Linked DNA regions of Homo sapiens. The protein of the gene in region 2 interacts with the protein of the main gene of each other region in a pairwise test. Each region holds a gene or a part of one and is shown on either strand. Other genes may lie near its edges. The genes, in order: RBFOX1, PSMF1 and TRIM73.

Region 1 (3,650 bases), on a different chromosome or scaffold from region 2:
ACAAGGTGGAAAAGGTAATCAGGATTCCAATCTTCATGATGTGCTGAAGATACAAATTAGAAATAAAATGAGTCATCTGCAGTAACCATTAGGCATGTAACGGTTGCAGATGGTATGGTCGAATTATTAGTGGTTACAGACGTTGTAATGATCACTGCCAAGTTTTAGGCAGTTTGAAGAAGGAGGTTGCTTTTTTGTCTTGTTTTGCTTTTGACTTTGAAATCCCATGCCTATATTTAACAAGAGACAAAGGGGGGGAAAAGCACAAAGATCTTTGTGACTGTTTTTCTCTGTAATTGTCCTCACTGTAAACCCCTGTCAAAGTGGGAAGACAAAGACAGGATAGAGCACCAAAAGGAAAGAAGATGTCTCATGTCCAAATAACGTGAGAAGTACCGAATTGGAGTTAAACTGTAGTTTCTTGCAGTAACTATGACCCAAAAGAGGAAACCCTCCTAAATTCCCTAAGCTCCAGTGCAGGGAGCCAATGAGAATGTTTACAGATGCTTCACAATGTGATTCCTGCCACTAAATGTATCCTATAACAAGAACGGCTCCATGACCACCGGTGTTTGGCAGGAAAGAACAGATTTTTAGTGCATAAAACTGCATTTCTTTAGAATAGTGGTTGTAAACTAAGGAGGCTTGAAAGTCATTGCAAGGGGGTCTATGAATCTGTATGTTCCTGGCACTTTTATAGACAAAATTTACAGAAACAAATAAATCTTGCATACTTTTAAAAAAAGGGACACAGATGCTATTTGTGATGAACAAGGTTGAGTTTGTGCACTAAATGCATGGTGTGTTCTCTTAATTGACAGGTATTAAGTGTATCTATCATCTTGCCAAATTGACATCTTGTCAGTTGCTTGAAAATCTTGACTTTAAAGTGAAGTGGTGAATGCATGTAGTCCCAGCTAGTCAGGAAGCTGAGGCACAAGAATCGCTTGAACCCAGGAGAAAGGTTGCAATGAGCCGAGATCATGCCACTTCACTGCAGTCTGGGTGACAGACTAAGACTTTGTCACAAAAAAAAGGGGGGGGGGGGGTGCTGGATGGGTGCAATAGCTCACATCTTATGCTGTAATCCCAGCACATTGGGAGGCCAAGGCGGGAGGGTTGCTTGAGGCCAGGAATTTGTGAGCAGCCTGGACAACAAATTGAGACCCCATCTCTATTAAAAAAAAATACTTAAAAATTAGCCAAGCATGGTGGCTTGTGCCTGTAGTCCCAGCTACTTGGGAGGCTGAGGTGGGAGGATCCCTTGAGCCCAAGAATTTGCAGTGAGCCGTGATCACACCACTGCACTCTAGCCTGGGTAGCAGAGTGAGAACTTGTCTTTTTAAAAACAAGAGCCCTGAAACTAGTAGATTTGGATCAAGGTCTGATGACCGGTAGTACAATTTTTTGGCAAGATCTTGCTCCTTGCCGTCTACCCTACCTCTGTAAGACTAGAGAGACTCAGGATCCCTTCTCTGATTCCTGTGAATATTTTGAATACCTCTATGACTTAGCATTGTAGCCTGCAGTAACTTTCACGATAACTGAGTGACACCATGAAAGAGTGTCAGGACGGTCATTAAGGGGATCACATTGAAAGCCAACATCACAGTGACACTTGATGAGAAAAAAATAGACTGCATAGCAAGATGTCTTCCTAACCTGACACGGCAAAGAGAATATAACTCCTCTTACCGCCCATCATTCACACCTGGTCTTACTGCCTCACACACACTTAACCTCGACTCTCACTTTGAATGCTCTGCACTTTTCAAAGTCATCTTTGACCTGAAAGTGCCCGAGGGTATCTCTGTTCTGCAGGAGTTGGAAGGCTCAACTCAAGGTTATTACCAAATGAGAGAGATAAAAGTGCAAGAGCTGACCTTTTCCTCTGAAATGTCAGCATTCAAAGCTGGGTATCTTCAATATTAGGATGCTCGCTCTGCTTTTGTGTCAGATGCATACTTGATAAGCATCACGTGTGTATAAGAAGTAAAAGGTGCAAGCTAATCCCCAACACACAGTGCCTTTGAGTAGTGAACAAGAGCCTCCCATTTTATATGGAGACACCACCAACTTGGCTAGGAATGAGGCATTCAAGTTGGGCATCTTCTTGTTCCTTTTGTGATATTTGCATCCATTTATTAACTCTTAGAGGAAGAGTCTCTGAGAAGCCCACCATTGCTCTAAGTCAAATGTTAAGGATGTAGTTCTTTTCATTGAATCCAGAGGCACCTGCTATCATTGCTGGGATGTCATGGGCAAATTGGCTACATCTGCAAACATGAATGATATCCAAGCCCTGTCACAGCTTTGTCCTTTGGTGGAACACTGGTCAAAGAAATGGCAAACTCATGTCTTCCCAAAGTGGATAGTGAAGATATCTTCGAGAAAAAAATAATCAGGGGCAAGATGACCTATAAAAAAAGCAATGCTATTATTTTCTCCTGGGTCAGTGGTGACTTGTGGCCTGCTCTGTGTTTCACCATGGTGCCTGGGCAAGGCTACACTTCATGGCATATAGCACCACAGTAAGTACCTCTGAATCCTTTTCACTGATTTCAGAAGAACGTAGACTTCAGGAATCAACATGGACTTAGAAACTGGTAGCTCATTTGGTGTCGGTGGTGGTGGTTTTGTTTTGTTTGCTAAAATCAGCTTTATGCAGAAGTAGTTGTTCTCTGCTGATGCATCTGAAATCTAAATGCACAGTGCCTGGGAAAGACTAGGCAATGCAGGGATACACTAAGAGTCACCCTCTGGATCATTTGACAACTGTAAAAGAAAGCAAAACCAAGAGGACTCGATGTGTATTTTTGCTGCAGTATGATGTCCTGGGCCATTGGATTTAGGACCATCAATAGGCTTCCTTCAACAGTGGGTCATCTAGGAATTTGTGTTCCATTTGGCCTACAAGTTACTTCTTAGAAGAAAGCCACTTGGTAAAGTAGATACATGGTGAGCATATGTACAGAAATACATGCTAAAACCATAAAGAGATTCTAGCCACAATATACCTGCAGACTAGGCTCTAAATTGTTTCTCCCCATACAAACATCTAACCTTAGTATTGTAAATACCCCAAACTTACATGAGACAGGGAGGTCTCTGGAACCCCCAGAGCGGGCACTGCTGGGAAGAAAGGTGATACTTACACCAAACATTTGTCTGAGGTCCGGATCCCGGAACCTGAAGGGGATATTGGAGACATGCAGCCGCTTGGGCTGAGACTTGTTTTCCGTGTTTTCAGAAGGTTGTGTCTGGGGCTGGCCATCCGTCGGTGCTGCGTCATCTGTCTGCTAAAAGAACAAGAAGAAACCGAAGAGGTTCTCAGTGGACCACAGTGCTCTCTTCCGATGCTCTTTTGCTTGCCATGAGTGGCAGGAAAAGATCAGAACTAAGCAATCTGAGAAGGGAAGAAAATGCTGACGCATGCATGCATGCATTCATTCAGCAAGTGTTTTCTGAGCGTCCACTGGGTGCTCATTATGAATCTGGGATTAGGCAGTGGGAAAAGCAGACAAAAATCCCTGCCCTCAGGGAGCATCATTCTCATGAGGGCAACACAGACAATAAATCCATAGATAGAGTGTTGGCAGACAGAGAAAAGCACTATAGGCTAGAAAAAGCAAAGGAAGGGGACTGGGAGC
Region 2 (3,650 bases):
ACCTTGACGAAGAAAAAGTGGGAGGAATTATTCTACTCAATATTAAGGCCTACAATAATCAATACTGATAGAGTAATATTGACAGAGGAAGAGACATAGAGATCAATGGAAAAGAACAAGGGATCCAGAGATAGATCCACAGATGTACAGACAACTGATTTTTGACAAAGTTTCAAAAGTAATTCAATGAAGGAATAACAAATGATGTTGGGGCCATTGGACATCCATGGGTAAAAAATGAGCTGCTTGCCTGCCCAAGCTGGGTGGGAGGGTAAATTCAAGTCTTCTTTCCTTTTAATCAGATCAGAGGGAGGCCTCTGATCTCCCTAGGCATGTGTAAAATTCAGGCCTGATTAAAAAACCACCAGGTCCTGAAGGAGAAGTTCTCACACAATTTCTAAGCCTTGAAAGAACAACTGCCATTTTGGTTGTGGCAAAAGACAGCCTACCATCTCATCCGACACAGAAAGGGTACAGCAGAATGGAACACAATAGGTTTATATTTCTTAGCAAATCACAGTTTGCTCACTGAGGAGCACAAATTGCTGGAAGAGGCAAGACATGCCACAATGACCTAATAAAGAGGGCTACATGGAGGAAGCTATGGCTGAAAGGCATAGGAGGGAGACAGGGCCTCTGATCAGGAGGCAGAGCCATACCTCAGCTTTCACCGCCCATTTCCACGGAGATGACTCCTGGTGATCACATTTTTTTCCCCTTTGTGTATTTTACTAAGAGCTGGACTAAGCGCTAAGCACTCTATGTGCTGACATCTCATTCCATTCTCAGAAAAACCCTGAGGTAGTACTATTGTGTCCCTCATTTCACAGTAATCAAAAAACAAAACAAAACACAACACATATCCCCTCCCTCACACACAAACCCCTCAAACAAATGTACTTAAAAAACAAATAGAGACAGGATCACAATTCTCTTTCAGTATTGCTGAACAGACGGAATGCTCTAATGAGCATGAATGGCCAGTATAATTCCTAGGTTCTTCCACAGGTTTTGTCAATTTCTCTCCCAGTGGAAGTCCAGAGTGAAGAAGTCAAGAGACCACACTCCAAATGTCCCTCCCTTACCCACTAAGAGGGGCCAGGGTGTCAGGGAGTGTGCAACACCCAGAGGCGCGGCATTCTGCCGGCCAGGCCTGGCTCACTTCCCCCTTTCCTCAGAGGCGCAGCATTCTGCCGGCCAGGCCTGGCTCACTTCCCCTTCCCTCCCTTTGTCTATTGCATGCAGAAGACACCCAAACCCTGCCCTCAAGGAGATCACAGGCAAGGAGGGAAGACCAACCCTAAGAAGGTAAATGTAAAATATCTGATGGATTAAATGCTTAAAAAATGATGTTTTGATCCAGGGCAACACAGCAAAGACCTCATCTCTACAAAAAATAAAAAACTGGCTGGGCATGGTGGCACATGCCTGTAGACCCAATTATTTGGGAGGCTCAGGTGGGAGGGTCACTTGAGCCCAGTAGGTTGAGGCTGCTTGGCCTGTTTATAAGTGAGCTGATTGTGCCACTGTACTCCAGCCTGCCTGGGCAACAGAGGGAAACCTGACTCCAAAAAAAACATTTTACTAAAATGTTTTGAAGCTGTAAGCCTGGGGGCCAGAGGAAGCTTCTCTAAGGAACTGACGTTTAAATCGGTAACCAAAAGATAAACAGGAGTTGGCTACGTGAGGTCAGGGAGAGCACTTTAGACAGAGGGAAGAGGTCTGAAGAGGGCAGAAGAATGACACTGTGGCTGAAGCACAGGGATGCGGGGAAGGCAGTACAAGGTGAGATTGAAGGGGTGAATGCTTTAAGGCCTCATCAAGGATTGTGCTCTTTATCCTAACAGCAATGAGTATTCCCTAAAGACTTTTAACTGTGGTAAAATATGCATAAAATTTACCATCTTAACCATTTTTAAGTGTTCAGTACTGTTAAGTACATTAACACTGTTGTGCAATCACCTACCATCCATCTCCAGATCTCTTTTCATTTTGCAAAACAAACTCTGTACCCATTAATCACTAACTCCCCTTCCTATTCCCCTCTTGCCCCAGTATCTGGCAACCACCATCCACTGTCTGTCTCTACAAATTTGACTAATCTAGGTACTTTTAATAGAATCACACAGAATTTGTCCTTTTGTGAATGGCTTATTTAATTTAGTATAATGTCTTCAAGGTTCATCCATGTTGTAGCACGGGCCAGAATTTCCTTCCTTTTTAAAGCCGAATAATATTCTACTGTATTTACATACCAAATTTTGTTCATCCATTCATCTTATCAATGGACAGCCAAGCTGCTTTCACCTTTTGGCTACTGTGAATAATGCTTCTACGAACATGGGTGTACAAATATCTTTTCAAGACCTACTTTCAATTCTTTTGGGTATATGCCCGGAAGTGGACATGCAGGATTATACGGTAATTTTTTGAAGAACTGTCATATTGTTTTCCATAGTGGCTGCACCATTTTACATTCCCAAGAGTGCACAAGAGTTCCAATTTCTCCACATCCTTGACAACGCTTGTTTATTTTCTGGTTATTCTGATACTACCCATCGTAATGGGTGTGAAGCAGCATCACTGAAGGGTTTTAAGCCAGAGTTGTTAACTATGATCTGATCTATGTCTGAAAGACTGGTCCAACTGCTGCGTGGGAAATACACTGGAGGGTGGCATGCAGGAGGGGAATATGTAAAAGACCTCCTCACACAGAAGCTGCATGGAAGAGGGGAGGAGAAATGAGGAGTGGCCAGAATGTGGAGGCCAGTGGTTTGAAAGTCTGTGAGGACTGGAATAGGTTCAAAGAGGGTATTGCTGATTAGATACTATTAAATGCAACAGGGTTTCTGGGCAGTTCTGAGGTTCGGTTAAGGTTTGATAACTGTGCATTTATAGTGATGCCAAGCTCACTCTAAAACTCTGAGGGTGGCTAGGTGCGGTAGCTCACACCTGTAATCCCATCACTTGAGGTCAGGAGTTCGACACCAGCCTGGCCAACAGCAAAACCCTGTCTCTATTAAAAACGCAAAAATTGGCTGGGTGCAGTGGCTCACGCCTGTAATCCCAGCACTTTGGGAGGCCAAGGCAGGTGGATCACGAGGTCAGGAGATCGAGACCATCCTGGCTAACATGGTGAAACCCCATCTCTACTAAAATACAAAAAAAAAAAATTGCCAGGCGTGGTGGTGGGCACCTGTAGTCCCAGCTACTCGGGAGGCTGAGGCAGGAGAATGGCGTGAACCCGGGAGGTAGAGCTTGCAGTGAGCCGAGATCGCGCCACTGCACTCCAGCCTGGGTGACAGAGCAAGACTCCGTCTCAAAAAACAAAACAAAAAAACGCAAAAATTAGCTGGGTGTGGTGGTGCACACCTGTAATCCCAGTTACTCGGGAAGCTGAGGCAGAAGAATTGCTTGAACAGTCACACTGTACTCCAGCCTGGGTGACAGAACTAGACTCCACCTCAAAAAAATAAAATAAAATAAAAAATAAAACCCTGAGGAGGTCAATGAAGATGGGGGGAAAATCCCTATAATGGAATAAAGCAGACATAAATCAGCTTAACTATATATAAAACAGATAATTTCATTATACTGATTTTAAAAACAAGCACTAATCTAAGTACCTTTGGAACACACTACTCTGCCTA
Region 3 (4,277 bases), on a different chromosome or scaffold from region 2:
GTGCCTCATCTCGCTCCTAAACAATCCCTTCTTCTCCAGCTCCTACTCTGAATTTACCCTCTCCAAGTTTCATTAGCCGAGGAGTTTTCCTAAAGTAATTAGAATCGAAGGGTCTGTCCAAGTGTTCCAGGTATCCATAGTATTTCACTAGAATAGAGGAAAGAATGTAAGGAAAATGGACCCAAAACACCCACGCCACCATAATATCGAGTCTCTCATGATCACACAGAAACAATGCGATCAGATGAGCTTAAGCTGCCCGACACCACGAGGTACAGGAATAAATCTCTCTGCATTTTAGGAGCCTACCCTTCGGCTCAGAGGTTCAAGAGCTTCATGGAAGCATCACGCAAAGGGGACATAGGGTTCCTTAGCTTTCCTCTTAAAAAAACTAATTCATGGCAGAAGCAGCGGCTCACGCTTGTAATCCCAGCTACTGGGGAGGCTGAGGTGGGAGGATCACTTGGGACCAGGAGTCTGAGACCAGCCTGGGCAACATAGAAAGTGCCCCATCTCTACAAAAATATTAAAAATTAGCCGGGCATGGTGGATTGCGCCTGTAAATCTCTTATTTGGGAGGCTGAGGCTGGAGAATCACTTGAGCCCAGGAAGCAGAGGCTGCAGTGAGCTATGTTCGCACCACTGCACTCCAGCCTGGGGAACTGAGCGAGACCCCGTTTCAAAAACAAAAATCCACTTCAAACAAAGCATTTCCAACCCCATTAAATGCTTTTTGAAAATGAGGCCTCTCTCTTCCCAACAGAGTGCGATGACATGGATCCTGCGGACAAACCGCCCCAGGGCGTACCTAGCACCGAAGCATCAGGCGCCACTAGGTCTCCAGCTCCTTCTCGGATGACGTCCTTCAGCACGCCCCGGTCCCCCGAGATGTCCAGCATCCTCTGACTTAACCGCTCGTACAGGGACTGATGGAGAATGAAAGCCAGGCCTCAGAGCCGCAGACCCACCCGGCCACCCCTCAGCGTCTACGCCCCCGAAACGTCTGGGCCCTCACCTGGCCGGGGGCGTCGTCCCCTTCCAGGACTCCCTGGTTTAACGCGCTTCCCCCCATGTCCTAGCTGCCCTCCCTGTGGCGTGAGCCTTCGGCCTGGTGCGCCCCGCTGCCCTTCCTGGCTGTGACTCTGGTGGGGTTCCGAAGGCCCCTTTATGCCCGGCAGACCCCTACCGACGGCGGCATTACATTCTGGGGCCACGAGGAGGCACTCATCGTTTCGTTCCAACCGCCGCCAACGGCCCTGGCCCTCGCGAGCTCTGGAACTACAGAGGTCGCACGGTGAGTTGCCAGGTGTGGCCCGTAATCGGAGCGCACAAAACATGATGGGACACGTAACGGGACCACACAGGGCACATTGGGCACTTGCAGGGGCGCGAGGTGGCGGCACGTAATGGGAGCGCGCTGAGCATGATGGGGCATGTGCGGGAGCGCCAGGCGGGGCATGTAACCAGAGCGTGCGGGGCATGATGGGGCACGGACATGGGGGGTTAGGTGGGGCACGTAATTGGAGCTCGCGGGGCAGGATGGGGCATCTAACTGGAGCGACAGAGAGCACGATGGGGCACTTACAGGGGCCGGAGGCTGGGTACGTAATGAGAGCGAGCGGGAAATGATGGGGCACCTAACGAGCACGCAGAGCATGATGGGGCACGGGTGCGAGGTGGGGCGCACAGTGGGAGCGCGTGGGGCGTGATGGGACACATGGCGAGGCCGTCAGGGCACAGGGGAAGCACTTTTGGAACACGTGAGTGACAGGGCTGCCGCCCTTGAAGGAGCCCTCGGAGTGGCTGCGTGGTGGGGCACGTGGGGCAGGTTCAGGAAAAAGGATGCAGCATGTGATTGCAGGGCAACCTGGTGAGGACACGAGAGCCACCTGCCACCAGCAGGGTTCAGGGCTCCCAGCTGTGGGTTACTTCCACCTTCTTTCACTTTCCCTCTTCCATTGTATTCTAGAGAATTTAGGCCCAGACAAGACACTGATTGATTGATTGATTGATTGATTGACAGAGGCTCGCTCTGAGCCCAGGCTGGAGTTCAGTGATGGATCTCAGCTCACTGCAGCCGCCACCTCCTGGGCTCAAGAGATCCTCCTGCCTCGGCCTCCCAAGTAGCTGGGATTACAGACGTGCACCACCAGGCCCAGCTAATTTATTTTTTAGTTTTTAATTTGCTGGTAAGATGGTTTGTAGCTTTGTTGCCTAGGCTGGTCTTGAACTCCTGGCTTCAAGCGATCCTCCAGTCTTGACCTCCCAAAGTGCTGGGATTATAGGCGTAGGCTACAGCCAACTTTCAATACTGCCCCATTGGGGGTTACGTTTCCAACACATGAAATTAGGAGGATACATTCAAACCACAGCAGTATATTATGACCATAATATTCATTAACTGTGTAACAGGCTGGGCGCGGTGGCTCACACCTGTAATCCCAGCACTTTGGGAGACCAGAGTGGGTAGATCACTCGAGGTCAGGAGTTTGAGACCAGCCTGGCCCACATGATGAAACCGCCTCTCTACTAAAAATACAAAAAATTAGCCGGTGTGGTGGCAGGCGCCTGTAACCTCAGCTACTTGGGAGGCTGAGGCAGGAGAATCACTTGAATCCGGGAGGTGGAGGTGGCAGTGAGCCTGATTGCACCACTGCACTCCAGCCTGGGCAACAAGAGCAAAACTCTGTCTCAATAAACAAACAAACAAACAAAACCTGTATAACAGAGTGTCATTGAATTTCTAAACGTTGAAAGACTTCACATTAAAAAAAAACTCACAATTTAATATTATTGAGTGAAAGAAACCAGACACAAAAGGGTACATTCTATATGATGCTGTTTATGTGACATTCAAAAACAGGCCACATGACAACATGGTAATAAGGACAGTGGCTGTCCTTGTTAGGAGTTATGACTGGAAGGAGGCAGGAGGGAGCTTTCTGGAAACACTGTACATCTTGCTCTTGAGAGTGCACGTATATACATCAAGTGTTTATCAAGCTGTGTGGTTAAGATTTGCACACTTGTATATGTTATACCTCGATTTAAAAAATCTAAATAAGTAAATAAAGATACCTTCAAATCTTTAAAAAAAAAAAAAAAAAGAGGCCAGGTTCGGCGGCTCACACCTGTAATCCCAGCACTTTGGGAGGCTGAGGTAGGAGGATTGCTTGAGGCCAGGAGTTCAAAACCAGCCCAGGCAACAAAGTGAGACCCCTGTCTCTACTAAAGTAAATAAAACAATAAAATAAAAAAAAAAATTCGAGAGATCGAACCATCATCTGCCAGTTTGTATTAGAAAAAAAGAGAGAGAGAAGGAAGACTGCGTGCAATAAGGCTCATGCCTGTAATCCCAGCACTTTGGGAGGCCAAGGTGGGAGGATTGCTTGAGCCCAGAAGTTGAAGACCAGCCTGGGCAACAAAGCAAGACCCGGTATCTACAAAAAAAATTTTAAAAATTAGCTTGGCATGGTGGCATGTGCCTGTAGTCCCAGCTACTCAGGCAGCTAAGGTAGGAGGATGGCTTGAGCCTAGGAGTTGGAGGCTGCAGTGAGCTGTGACCACGCCACTGCACTCCAGCCTGGGCAACAGAGCAAGACACTGTCTTCCCCTGCCCCCCAGCCCCCCACCCCCCCCAAAAAAGGATATAAGAGCAAGAGATTGAGATTCAGAAAGAACTGTTTCCCAGCACCTATCTGCTCCTGTTGGGGTCATGAGGTGTGGACGGTGTACCCAGTCCCTCTGTTTCTGCCCCTCCTCCACAGTGGCCAAGGCCAGCACTTGAATGTTATCAGAGCAGGCCCAACAAAGGCTGCCTCCCCAGTCCTGTGATGTAACCCAGTTTCCACCTGATTCTGGTGACCTTGGGGACACAGGGGTGTTGCTGGGGAAGGGGAGGAGAGAAGGGGCAGAGACCAGGCAGTGGTGCAGGCGTCCAGCTGCACTTCCCACTTCTGACTCTGTGCCTGCTGTTCCCTGCTGGGAAGAAGAAAAGCCAGTGATGCTGGCTTGAGGCCATAGTGGGAGGCCCAGTGGATCCTGAGAAGCTAGGTATTCCAATGTCGGGCTCTCGCTGGGGGCTTCTGGTGCTTCTTCTGTCTCACTGACAAGCTTTCATAGGGGAGCAGGTGGGAGATCAGGGTAGAGGCCTTGTAGGTTCCAGGCTCTCTAGAATTACCTGGGAGTGTCACCTATAAGTGTAGAGTTCTGGGTCTCACTGGAGACCCCCTGAAGCAGATCCTTTGAAGGTGGGCCTCTAGAATCTCTATTACACC

The links.
Region 1: the proteins of PSMF1 (region 2) and RBFOX1 interact in a two-hybrid assay, tested with the Homo sapiens proteins (one large-scale study listed by BioGRID and IntAct).
Region 3: the proteins of PSMF1 (region 2) and TRIM73 interact in a two-hybrid assay, tested with the Homo sapiens proteins (one large-scale study listed by BioGRID).

Annotation. Positions count from the first base shown.
Region 1 is NC_000016.10:7,579,426-7,583,075, reverse strand, and holds part of RBFOX1 (RNA binding protein fox-1 homolog 1), read right to left. Parts: intron 3,300-3,650; coding exon 3,156-3,299; intron 1-3,155. UniProt on the Homo sapiens protein: RNA-binding protein that regulates alternative splicing events by binding to 5'-UGCAUGU-3' elements. Regulates alternative splicing of tissue-specific exons and of differentially spliced exons during erythropoiesis.
Region 2 is NC_000020.11:1,128,565-1,132,214, reverse strand, and holds part of PSMF1 (proteasome inhibitor PI31 subunit), read right to left. Parts: intron 1-3,650. UniProt on the Homo sapiens protein: Plays an important role in control of proteasome function. Inhibits the hydrolysis of protein and peptide substrates by the 20S proteasome. Also inhibits the activation of the proteasome by the proteasome regulatory proteins PA700 and PA28.
Region 3 is NC_000007.14:75,394,210-75,398,486, forward strand, and holds the start of TRIM73 (tripartite motif-containing protein 73), read left to right. Parts: upstream 1-1,419; 5' UTR 1,420-1,601; intron 1,602-4,277.